3 linked regions of the Homo sapiens genome follow. The protein of the gene in region 1 interacts with the protein of each later gene in a biochemical or structural test. Each region holds a gene or a part of one and is shown in the gene's direction. Other genes may lie near its edges.

Region 1 (3,743 bases):
GTTGGACATTAAGTCACCGAGTCATCCACTGAGGAAAGGGATATCATTAAGAAGAATAGTTTTCCACTAACGCCGAACCGGCGGCACCATCTCAACCAACAGGTCAAGTTACAGTAGGCAAGCACGCATAGAAATAAACGTCTAAAACCCAGCCTGTTACATTAGCCAACACTCTTCTTGACTTTTTCCGAATTTTTTCCCTGTCCCCAAGATTAGCCGCTCGCTAGAAAAGACTGCGAGCCTCAGCAGCCTCCCCTTGAACTGGGGCGCTGCCTCCAGCTGGACACGGACTAAGGATGGAAAGGCGCACTGACGGAGGCCGCCCCCATTTCCCAGGCCCCTCCCTAGGGGTGCCCCTCCTCAGCCATGGCTGCCCCTTTCTCTCCTCCTCCAGCATCTGCCCCTGGGGCCACCCCCACCTTTCCGCCATCTCTCGGGCCCGCGTGGCACCCTGCTCTGTTTTTAACGGGGATAAACTTGACTTGCTTCTCCAAAGAGCGGGAAAAAGAGGCGCAGTCTTGGTACTGATCTGGGGGAGGGAACGTCCCAGGGCGCGCAGGGGCGTTTTCTACCCGTGCCCCGTCGGCCTGCTCTGTTCAGTACCGACCGTGTTCGGGGTTCACGTGGCCCAGTCGGCAAAGTTTCTTTGGAGGTCCAGCGTCTCTGATTCCCGGATCTTCAGCCCCACCCGGAGCCCCCACGGTTACTGCCCCCCGCGACCCCCGATGGAGCGTCGGGATGCGCTTTCTCTCCGAGTGCCTCCGGGGGTGGAGGGAGGGAGGCCTGTTTCGGAACTAAATGGCAATCACAGCCCCCGCGGGGCTTGGAGGGACGAGCTCCCCGCCCACCCCGCGGCCCCGGCCCCAGCCAGCATCTCGCGACTCCATTTCTGGCTCTAAACAAGAACGGGGACCGAGTCGCGTTCACACGGAAAATTATGCCGGCTCCAGCGGCGCGTAAAATTGATGTGAACCGAACGAAGTAAGATCAGCGTGATCCTCCCCCTCTTGTCTCAACAGGGGTTTCGGCGCGTTACACAAGGCCGAGCTTGTCTCTTTAAGGAGACATTGGACCCTAATTAGTCCGCATTCCTGGCGCGGCTGCGGAGCGAGGGGCCGAAGGTGTCTGGGTTGGGAGACGGGTGGGCGGGAGGACGAGACTCGGAAGAAGATCTTTTGACCAGCCCCCAGGCTCACCGCTCCCTCCACCCTCTTTATTTTGCCGCCACCACCACCACCACCACCAACACCTAATTCTGAAGATGCAGCCAGGGCAGCAGCAACAGCAGCAGCCGCCGATTCTCCCAGCCCCACGTTACTTTGATTGACAGCTGAACAAATGTTTTCCCGGTTCGAACGCTCGCGCTAAGGAACGTCAGCCAAGGCGAAGCTCCGCCTTGGGCGGGCCATCTCCGCCCCGCCTCCGCCAACCTCATTCCTCTTCGTTAATTGGTCGGAGCTACAGGCGACGCCCGGCCCCCACGTGGGTTTCAGCTGGGTTGGCTCCTCCCCGCTGGCTTGCCATTTGTCAGCAGTGAAATGATGGGCACTAACACAGAACGGCGATTAATGTTCAGCCACCTCTGATTGGTTGGTGGAGACGCCTACCGCAACGGGGGTGGGCGGGGCGCTTGGAGAGCTCGCCAGAGCGCTCGCATGGCGGGCCGGTGATTGTAGTCAATCTGGCCGTATTCTCAGGCAGGGTCGCCCGGGGCGGACTACATCTCCCGGGATGCTGCGCGGCCGCCCCGCGGAAGATTGTGAATATGTATCAGAATGTTAATGATTAGCTGCTGCTAAATTTGGTCAAAGAAGTCACCTACACAGAGCGTGTTGTTAGAGCTGTGCTGAGCGGGTGTTTGGGTTGTTGGCTGCTTTCTTCCCCCTTTCTCACACACTTGTATATTATTTTGAGGTGGTGTTCGCAGAGTTTGAAAGGAGAGAGAATTAAAAAAAAAAGCCGCAAGCGTTTCACTCTTTTATTTTTATAATCCCCTTCAATTTGGGGTTAAAAAAAAGACAAGAAAACAGGAAGGAAGAGAAATAAGGAAATGAGATGTGGTAAAAGAAGCTAAAAGGTGCCTTTTAAAAGATCGTTGCTGTGAAGTGAAAAAAATCTCCAGAGAAACCAAAAAGCACCGCCGAGACCTCTTCCGAACCAAAGGAGTTTGTGTTTGCTTTTAGGGAAGAAGAAAGATCATTCATTCGGAGGAATAACAACCAATTAAAAGACAAATAAAAAAAGTTTGGAGTGGGACGCAGAGCGAGCGAGAGGAGCTGCCGGCGGGCGGTGGGGCGCGGAGCCCGCACTTTCCCGGCCGGGTGAGCGGCGGCCGCGGCGCCGGGCTCGGCGGGTGCGCCTCGGCGGAGCGAACGTCGGAGCGTTGCCTTGGGAGACGCGCGCCGGACAATGCCCGCGGCGGGCCAGTGACGCCCGCGGGGAATGCGGAGCGGCCCGGCAGCCGGCACCCAGCCGCCGCCGCGCGTTCCTGCCGCCCGTGTCACGCGAGACCCGGCGGGGGCCGGGACCGCCCGAGCCGCCCCTCAGACCGAGCCGGCCGCCTCCGCTGCCGCGGCCGCCTCCTCTTCGGGGTCATTAAAGCCAATGAGCCGCGCGCCTCTGCCGAGCGCAGCCAACTAAATCGGCTTGGATGATTCGCGACCTGAGCAAGATGTACCCGCAGACCAGACACCCAGTGAGTGCGGGCGGCGGGGCGCGGGCTCGCCGGGTGCTGGGGGATTCCCCGCGTCGCCCCCTGCGCACCGAGTTGTGTCTTTTGGCCGGAGGGGCGTGGAGAGCCGCCCGAAATCGGCGCCCCGCGCCGGGAGCAGCCCGCCCGCCATCACCCCCACCCCCCGGCGCGGTGGCCCTCGGAGGGGGTGCGGAGAGGCAATTGAGTTGTAGCCATTTTCTTATTGTTGTCTTTGAAGCCCCTGGAAGCCGCGCCGAGCCGTTTGCGGTCCCCGCGCCGCGACTCCTCGAGGGGGGGTGGCGAGCGATGAAGGAGGCGCGACTCCGCGCCCGGGCGGGGAGGGCGCCCTCGGCAGCGGCGCTGCTGGGCTGGCTGCGGTTTGGAAGTGCGGGGCGCCGGCCCCTCGCGCCGCGGGCCGCCGGGGCGAGCGGGCGAACGAACGAGCCGAGAGGGTGGCGGCCGCCTCCCTCCTCCCCCGGCCTGACCGCAGCCCGACGCCATGGCGCGGGTCCCCCCGACGGGCCAGTTTCGATTCCGGGTGAGGAGGGAGTGGGCGCGGCGCGCGGGTCCCTGGGTGCCTGTCTTTGGCCGGGGAGGGGAGACGGGACTCGAACCCTCGGGGTCCGGGGCGCGGGGGCCTGCGGGCGGGAGTATGCGGGGCCCCAGGACCACCTCGAAACCAGCCTCTGCCTGGGCTGTTGGGCGCGAGGAGGGTTGCGGGAGGAGAGTTTTAATCTCTCTTTGCTTGCGTGCGCGATGACCCTCACCCCCCGCTAACGCCGCATAGTAGGTTTTCTCCGTCTCCCTGCTTCGCCTGTGATGTGGGCTAATTAAATATTTTATTGTTGTTCTTCAGGCACCGCATCAGCCTGCTCAACCCTTTAAATTTACAATTTCCGAATCCTGTGATCGGATTAAGGAAGAGTTTCAGTTTTTACAGGCTCAATACCACAGGTAACGATATTGACTTTAGCTGATCCTTCTGTTTGCTTAGCTCTTGTCTCCCCGACAAATACACACAAACACTTACCCTCCTCCTTTTTTGTGGGGG
Region 2 (3,743 bases), on another chromosome or scaffold:
TCCCACGCACGCTGCTGCGGGGGGCCTGGGCCACGCAGGGGTCGGGTGTGGGGGGTCCCGGGCAGGTGGTAGCGGCGTCTCCGCGCTCTGTACACTAACCACTACAGGGGCGCTCCGACGTTCCCCCCAACCGGAGTCTTGAAGGCGCTGCGCTCGGCCACCGCGGGCGATCGCGATCCCAGCGGGAGACCCCCCCCACCCCCGCAGCCCTCCCCAGGTGCGCGGTGCCGGGGGACCCCGGGCGCTGCCCTCCAGCGCCCCCTCGGGGCCGGGTCTGTGGCCGGCGCGACCGCGGACTTTGGGGGGGGTTGTCCCGAGGGGCGGGGGTCGCCGGTCGGCCCGCGGAGGGGAGGGGGAGGGCGGCGGTGGGGGGGTTGGGGGAGCAGGGGCCGGGGCCGCGCGCGCGAGGCCGGGCCGCGGCCGCCGCGCCCTGGGGCTGCGACTCCGGCTCCGGCTCGGGCTCGCCATGGCTGCGGCGGTGCCGTGAGGAGGAGTCCGCGTCCTCGGTGGCGGCGGCGGCGGCCGGCTCCAGGCCGGGTTTTGGCGCCGCCCGCCTGCTGCCTCCTGGCGGCTCCTGAACTCCAGCCCCCTCTCTATCAGCCGCTCACTCCGTCTCAATATGTCTCAAGATGGCGGCCAATGTGGGATCGATGTTTCAATATTGGAAGCGCTTTGATTTACAGCAGCTGCAGGTCAGGCTCCTCCGCGCTCGGCCTCGCGCCCGGGGGTGGGGGCTGCGGGCGGTCGCGGCCTCCGCCGGGGGCCCCGGGCTGGCCCAGCCGCCGGGGGGCCCGCGGCGGCGGGGAGGAGGGGGGTGCCGGGCACCGCGGGGCCGAGTCGGGGCCGAGTCCCTCCCGCTCCCCGGCCCCCATTGATCACTCGCTTGATCGGAAATTGATCCTCTTTGTTCAATTCATCGATCAGCCCAAGATGGCGCCGGGAGCCGCCGCCGCCACCACTGCCCCCGGTGTCTGCCCCCACCCCGGGCGCCCCCCCGGGCCCCGCGCCGCCGCCGCCGCCAGCGCCGCCGCCGCCGTTGCCGCCGCGGGACCGGGGAGGGGGCGGCCCCGGCGGCCCGCGGGGTGCGCGCGCGAGCGGGGAGCGGGGAGCGGGCGGCGGGGGGCGGGCGGCGGCGGGCGCCGGGAGGGGGCCGCGGCCCGGCGGTGGCGCCCGCCCGCCCGCTCGCCCCGCGCCCCCGGCCCGCCGTATTCCCGGGGAAAGTTTGTGGGGAGTTGCTGCGGGGGGTGAAGCGCCTGCCTCTCCAGGAGGAGCCGCCGCCACTGCCGCCGGCGCGGCGGAGCTGGGGCTGGTGGCGCTGTGGTGCCGCCGGCTCGGGGGAGGGTCAGAGCGGCCACCGGCGGCGGCGGCGGCGGCGCGGCCCGGCTCCGGCCAGGCGGGCGGGTGGCCGGGCAGGCGCCCGCGCTCGCTACCCCCGGCCGGCCCCGGCCGCCGCCCCCGGCTGTCACCGGCCCGGGCCGCGCCGCCGCTCCGGCACCCCGCGTGTGGCTCCCGGCGCGGACCCCCGGGTTTGTTTACGTCCCGGGGAGCGCCCCGGGGCCACCCGCGCACCTCGCGGCCGCCGCGCTCTTTTGTGTGCCTGTGTCGGTGACGCGGACCTGTTCCTCCGTGGCGGACCCCCGCGGGGGCTCTTTGGGGAAACTTGGCGAGGGGCGGCGGGGGTGCCCCGCGCGCAGTGTCGCTGGGTCCCGGTGTCCCGGACCGCCGGGTGCGGGCGCGGGAGGAGGAGGCTGCAACTTTCCCCTAGGCAGGCCCCAAGCTGTTCCCCCGGGTGCCCGGGCAGTGTACGCTGCCTCCCCGCCGCCGGTCCGAGCCGCGATCGCCGCGCGCCTGGGGGCTCCGGCGGCCCCCGGTGACCTGCGGCGCCGGGTCCCTTCCTTGCGTCCCCTCGGGGCTTCTGCCCTCTCTGCAGGGCCCGCCATGGAGCGCGCGGCGGGTGCGCTCGGAGATGCCTTCTCGGGCCGGGTTCTCGAAAGCAGAGCCCCGGGGGCCCGTTGGGACCGTGGCATGCCGGGCGGTGGTCCGCGCGCGGAGTCCCCGGCGCCGCGGGGGGACCGTGCCGGGGCTCCCCGGCCCGCGCCCGAGTCGCCGCCGTGCCCAAGGGGCGAGTGCCTGCCTGCCACCCCCCGCCCGGAGGAGCGGCGCACCCTTAGGGTCCGCCCCGCACGTGCCAGCTCGGCGCCCGCGGCGCCGGGACAGCCCCGGGACTCTGCCAGGTGGATGTTGTGCGTAGCCGGAGCCAGGTTGAAGGTGAGCGGCGTGTGGGCCAGAAGTCCCGAGGTTGCAGGCGCGGAGGGAACCGGGGATGTCGGGGGGTGCCCGGGTCCCGCGGCTTAGAATGCTCTAGGGCGGCCTGGTGCTCTGGGAGGGGATAGGAGGGTTCCTCAGGGCCCCTGGGGAACTGCAGCTACTCCCAACTGCTAAGGTGTGCGTGAAGATAAACTTGGCTGAACTTTCCTAACCTGGAGGACTGGTGACAGTGACCTACCGCAATACCTTTGGGAGCAAAGCTCGAGATGCAGGCTTGTATCAAACGAAGCGGGTTGGATTAAAACATATTTAAATGGAATCTGACAACTTTAATTGTATATGCTTGTTTTCTGCTCTTGCCTACTAAGAACGATAAAGCCGAGTCATAGTCGTTATGAAATTTCCTGAAATTTCTCGCTTAACTAGGAAGAAGACTATGCGAAATATGTATTTCCGATAAGATTAAAACTTAAAGGAGTTTAAGTATTTATTGACTAAAATAGATTACTCCAAAGTGTCTATTGTGTAAATTAGATTCCTGGATGTAATGAACACAGCCGAATGGCATTTTTGATAAATTGGTCTACCCTGTTTTAGTAAAAATAGCTCCCTTTTACCATAATTTAATTCCTGTGCTTACTGTAAAACCCGTTGTGGAGTTTTAAGGACAAACATTATTATTATTTTTCTCTCTTGTCTTCCTAAATGTGACATCCTAGCTTAATATCAATGAAGTGTCTTTTTTAAAGCATCCTGGCAAAATTGCCTGGAAAATGGATTTGGTTTCTAGAGTTACTAGATTTTAAGAACTCTAAACCTTCCTGTCCCCCATATTAGCTACTTCTTCAGGGGATCAGGGCTCCAGGGTTCCATCGAAAGTTTCCATGTCAGTTTACTTGCACTTTATGTGGATATTAAGAAGAAATCAAAACCAAACCCCAAAACAAAGTCCCTTATTTGAACTTCATTCCTCTTTACTCCTTTGCTTTTGGTGGTTGCTAACGATTTGGCCTTAGATGATTTCCTATGGGTTTGCAAACTTTAGTCGAATACGGAATGTCAAAGTTCAAGTCTCAGGCCAATCTGGTTCTTTCTCTGGGCGGTGAGGAGGCCTTTGGAGTTGGTGTCTGGTTAATTCCCACCGATAGTCAGTGAGTCAATAGAACGAGTTTGGGAGAGAATTCATTAGTTCCAGATTTTTCTCATTTTTCCAGACCTCTTTATACTGAGATTGGGTTGCCACCTGGGGGTAAAGAGGCTGATCGGTCTTTGCAGAGAGAAATCCAGGTTGGAGACGTCAGCGGGTCCAGGTGAGGTTGGGCCGTTCCGCAGTTCTGCAACCCTGGCTCACTGGGTTCTTGTCCCTCGGCTTCCTGGGTCTTGAAGCTGCTGCCTTGGCACAGGAGTGTGTGCTCAGGAAGAGAATTTCTGAAGATTGTGTTTTATTCCGTTTCCTTTTTAGTCCCAAAGGCTTG
Region 3 (3,743 bases), on another chromosome or scaffold:
ACCATGGGCAGTGAGGAGGTAAGGAGTGGTTTTGAGCTGGGGAAGGAGAGAGTCACATTTAGTGAGGTTTCTGGGGCTGATGCAAAGGTGAGACTGGAGGTGGGGTGGCCAAGAAGGAAGCTGATGGTCCCAGAAAATCAAGTAATATGACATCTCAACACCCCGATGCAAAGATATGCATCCATTTAGCCTCGCACTTTAGATCTGCTCTTTCCCTGCCTGGGTCACTTTGAACAGTCTCTCCTGCATTGCTTGCCAACCCCACTGGTAAAAGGGTGGTGTTTGCTTGTCCAGGGAAAAGAGTTTTAGTTTTGCAGAACCAACAATATCAGGAGCATGTGGAGCAGCCACTCTTCCGGTGCAGTCACTTCAGACAGGACACAACCCTGCAAAGACTAGCCAGATGGGGCGGTGTCAGAAGAGAGGTGGGGAGTGTTCTCAATGGAGAATTAGCCCTTCCTGCTTGTGGCTCAGGATCAGCTAGGGCAAGTGTGAAGAAAGCATGTGGAATAATACAAATGCAGCATTGTGCCAAAGCCCCCTGCCCCCATCCTGGGACGGAGGAGTGGGGTCCTACAGGGAGCATCACGGGGGCTGCTGGCAGACAGTGGCTAACCACACCTCCTTTCTTCTCTCCTCAGGTCACACCCCAAGGGGGCGCGGGGACCTTACCGTTGTCCCAAGCTTCCAGCAGTCTGAGCACAACAGGTCAGGGAGGGCAGAAAATGGTGAGGGGGGACTGGGAGGATGTGGCACAGGCTGGAGCCTGAGGTTCCCAAGTGGCTCTGGGTGTCCATGGGCCTCAAGACTGGGCCTGGGGAGTGTGGGTGGGGGAATGGGAGAGACAGTGGGAAGAGGGTAGGACTCACCCCTCCTCTGCAGGAGCAACTCAGCTTTAATCTGCTTCACGATTTCATATGAGAAAAGCATGGGCCTGGTAAAAGGTGAGGCACTTGAGTTTTGTGCCTGGCCTCTGTCATTTTTAAGCTGTGTGAATTCAAGCACTTATTTTATCCTTCTAAGCCTCAGTTTTTATTAAATTATTATGAATGTGTAAAACATAAAAAGATATAAATACATGTATGTAAGAGTGTATGTGTATGTACATATACACACATACATGCATACATACATAGTCTTGTATCCAGAGTTCCCCTCCCTCTTCCTGGGACACGGTAGGTTTATATGTATGGTTATACACCATATATATAATAATAATATAAAATTCGCTGGGTGTGGTGGCTTATGCCTATAATCCCTGCTCTTTGGGAGGCCAAGGCATGTGGATCACCTGAGGTCAGGAGTTCGAGACCAGCCTGGCCAACATGGTAAGCCCTGTCTCTACTAAAAATACAAAAATTAGCTGGGCGTGGTGGCGTGTGTCTGTAATCCCAGCTACTCGGGAGGCTGAGGCAGGAGAATCACTTGAATCCGGGAGGAGGAGGTTGCAGTGAACTGAGATCACACCACTGCACTCTAGCCTGGTGACAGAGTGAGATTCCATCTCAAAAAAAAAAAAAAAAAAAATATATATATATATATATATATACACACACACATAATATATATATGCATAATATATATACACATAATATATATACACATAAAACAACACGTTGCCCCTCCCCAGGCTAGAAAATAGTAAGTGGAGATTTATAAAGTAGTAAGTGCTTGCCTGGCACTGTACTAAACTCTTTCTAAACTGCATTGACTGACTTAATTCTCAAACTCATTTTATGAGATAGGGTCTATTATTATCCCCATTTTCCAGACAAGGGATCTGAAGGTCAGAGAGGTTAAGGCACTCACCCAAGGGCACCACTGGGATGAGACAGAGCCAGGAGTTTCTACCCCAGCAGTCTGGCTGAGTCTGGGCCCTCAGCCCCTGCCAGGTTGCCCATCCCTCAGATGTGGCAGTGTGCCTGGCACCCTTCGCCCCTCCCCAGCCCCTAGAGGGAGCCATAGGGCTTTGTCTCCTGGGCACCCCCGTTTCTAGTCGGTAAAAAAGTGGTTCAGGGCAGGGAGTGTAGAGTGCCAGGGCTCAGCAGGAAGCACCTGCTCTGACTTCCATTGTTATGACAGGGGTCACCATGGCAGAGGCACAGGGAAATGACTCTGGGAAGAGAGGGCAGGGAGGTCTAAGGCTGTTCTGACTGAGGAGATGCTGCGTGAGCTGGGCGGGAGGACAAGTAGGAGCTGACCCCAGGTTCCTCAGTGGGGGACGAGTGGAAGCTGAAGACCCCATCTTTCTGTCTCTCTCTGGCAGTTACTACCTTATCCTCAGCTGTGGGGACGCTCCACCCCAGCCGGACAGCTGGAGGGGGTGGGGGCGGGGGCGGGGCTGCGCCCCCCCTCAATTCCATCCCCTCTGTCACTCCCCCACCCCCGGCCACCACCAACAGCACAAACCCCAGCCCTCAAGGCAGCCACTCGGCTATCGGCTTGTCAGGCCTGAACCCCAGCACGGGGTAAGTGGGTGCACGTGGGAAGCTGTGGGGAGAAGCAGGGTCGCTGCTGCTTCTAGGGTGGGGAGCGGCACCCCAGTTATGTTGGCAGGTCCCTGCCCCTGCTAATGCCTCTGCTTTGCCTCTTGCAGAAGCACAATGGTGGGGTTGAGCTCCGGGCTGAGTCCAGCCCTCATGAGCAACAACCCTTTGGCCACTATCCAAGGTGCGTGCTGCCTCATGTCACACCCATCGTCACCAGCCCTATCCTCTGGGGCCTCGAGCCCTGCCATTGCTGCTCCAGCCATGCCATCCTGCCCCTGCTCACTGCATTGCTTGCCTCTTCATACCCATCTCACCTTTGGGGAAGGTGTGAGGGGTGCTGATGGGGGTCAGTGGGACCGATGGGGAGATGGGGGGCACTCTGGGCAGGATGCTGGAAGGCAAAGGTCTCCCCTGGCCCGGCATGCCCTTAGCCCAGCCTCTCTCTCTCCCCGCCAGCCCTGGCCTCTGGTGGAACCCTGCCCCTTACCAGCCTTGATGGCAGCGGGAATCTGGTGCTGGGGGCAGCCGGTGCAGCCCCGGGGAGCCCTGGCCTGGTGACCTCGCCGCTCTTCTTGAATCATGCTGGGCTGCCCCTGCTCAGCACCCCGCCTGGTGTGGGCCTGGTCTCAGCAGCGGCTGCGGCTGTGGCAGCCTCCATCTCCAGCAAGTCTCCTGGCCTCTCCTCCTCATCCTCTTCATCCTCATCCTCCTCCTCCTCCACTTGCAGCGAGACGGCAGCACAGACCCCTGGAGGTCCAGGGGGGCCCGAGGCAGGGTCCAAACCTGAGTGAGGGCCAGCCATGCCTCCCCTCCCATTCCTCTGGTCCCTGCCTTGGTCCCTTGCCTGGGAAGAGGGCGAGGAGGCCAGTGGTGGGGACGCAGAGGGTCCTCAGAGCAGGAGTGACAAGGGAGGAAAGACCAAAAAAACAACCAACCAAAAAAAAAAAAAAAAAGGAAAGAAACTAACCAACAAAAGAGAAAACCAAAAATAATCACAACAGAAACCAGCTGCCCCAAAGGAACCAGAGGTGAAAAACAAACAAAAAAAAACCAAAAACAAACCAAAAAAAAAAAAAACCCACAAAATCAAACAAACCAAAAAACCAGTCGCGAGCCAGACCTCAGCGTGCTCACCCTCACTGCTACGACGCCAAATAAAAACCCCAGCCAGGGGCGGAGAAGCCTCCAGCAGGTCAGACCTCATGCCACCGAGCCCTGGCTGTGGGACCAACCCCCAACCCTGCCTCCCCCGTG

Evidence for each region.
Region 2: the proteins of TLE4 (region 1) and CUX1 form a complex in vitro, tested with the Homo sapiens proteins (one study listed by BioGRID).
Region 3: the proteins of TLE4 (region 1) and POU2F2 form a complex in vitro, tested with the Homo sapiens proteins (one study listed by BioGRID).

What each region holds. Positions count from the first base shown.
Region 1 is NC_000009.12:79,570,141-79,573,883, forward strand, and holds the start of TLE4 (transducin-like enhancer protein 4), read left to right. Parts: upstream 1-1,824; 5' UTR 1,825-2,650; coding exon 2,651-2,695; intron 2,696-3,036; exon of another isoform or gene 3,037-3,191; coding exon of another isoform or gene 3,192-3,230; intron 3,231-3,548; coding exon 3,549-3,646; intron 3,647-3,743. UniProt on the Homo sapiens protein: Transcriptional corepressor that binds to a number of transcription factors. Inhibits the transcriptional activation mediated by PAX5, and by CTNNB1 and TCF family members in Wnt signaling.
Region 2 is NC_000007.14:101,815,402-101,819,144, forward strand, and holds the start of CUX1 (Homeobox protein cut-like 1), read left to right. Parts: upstream 1-2,224; 5' UTR 2,225-2,238; coding exon 2,239-2,268; intron 2,269-3,743. UniProt on the Homo sapiens protein: May be involved in intra-Golgi retrograde transport.
Region 3 is NC_000019.10:42,090,794-42,094,536, reverse strand, and holds part of POU2F2 (POU domain, class 2, transcription factor 2), read left to right. Parts: intron 1-641; coding exon 642-708; intron 709-2,266; coding exon 2,267-2,468; coding exon of another isoform or gene 2,469-2,472; exon of another isoform or gene 2,473-2,596; coding exon 2,597-2,670; coding exon of another isoform or gene 2,671-2,945; coding exon 2,946-3,280; 3' UTR 3,281-3,743. UniProt on the Homo sapiens protein: Transcription factor that specifically binds to the octamer motif (5'-ATTTGCAT-3'). Regulates IL6 expression in B cells with POU2AF1. Regulates transcription in a number of tissues in addition to activating immunoglobulin gene expression.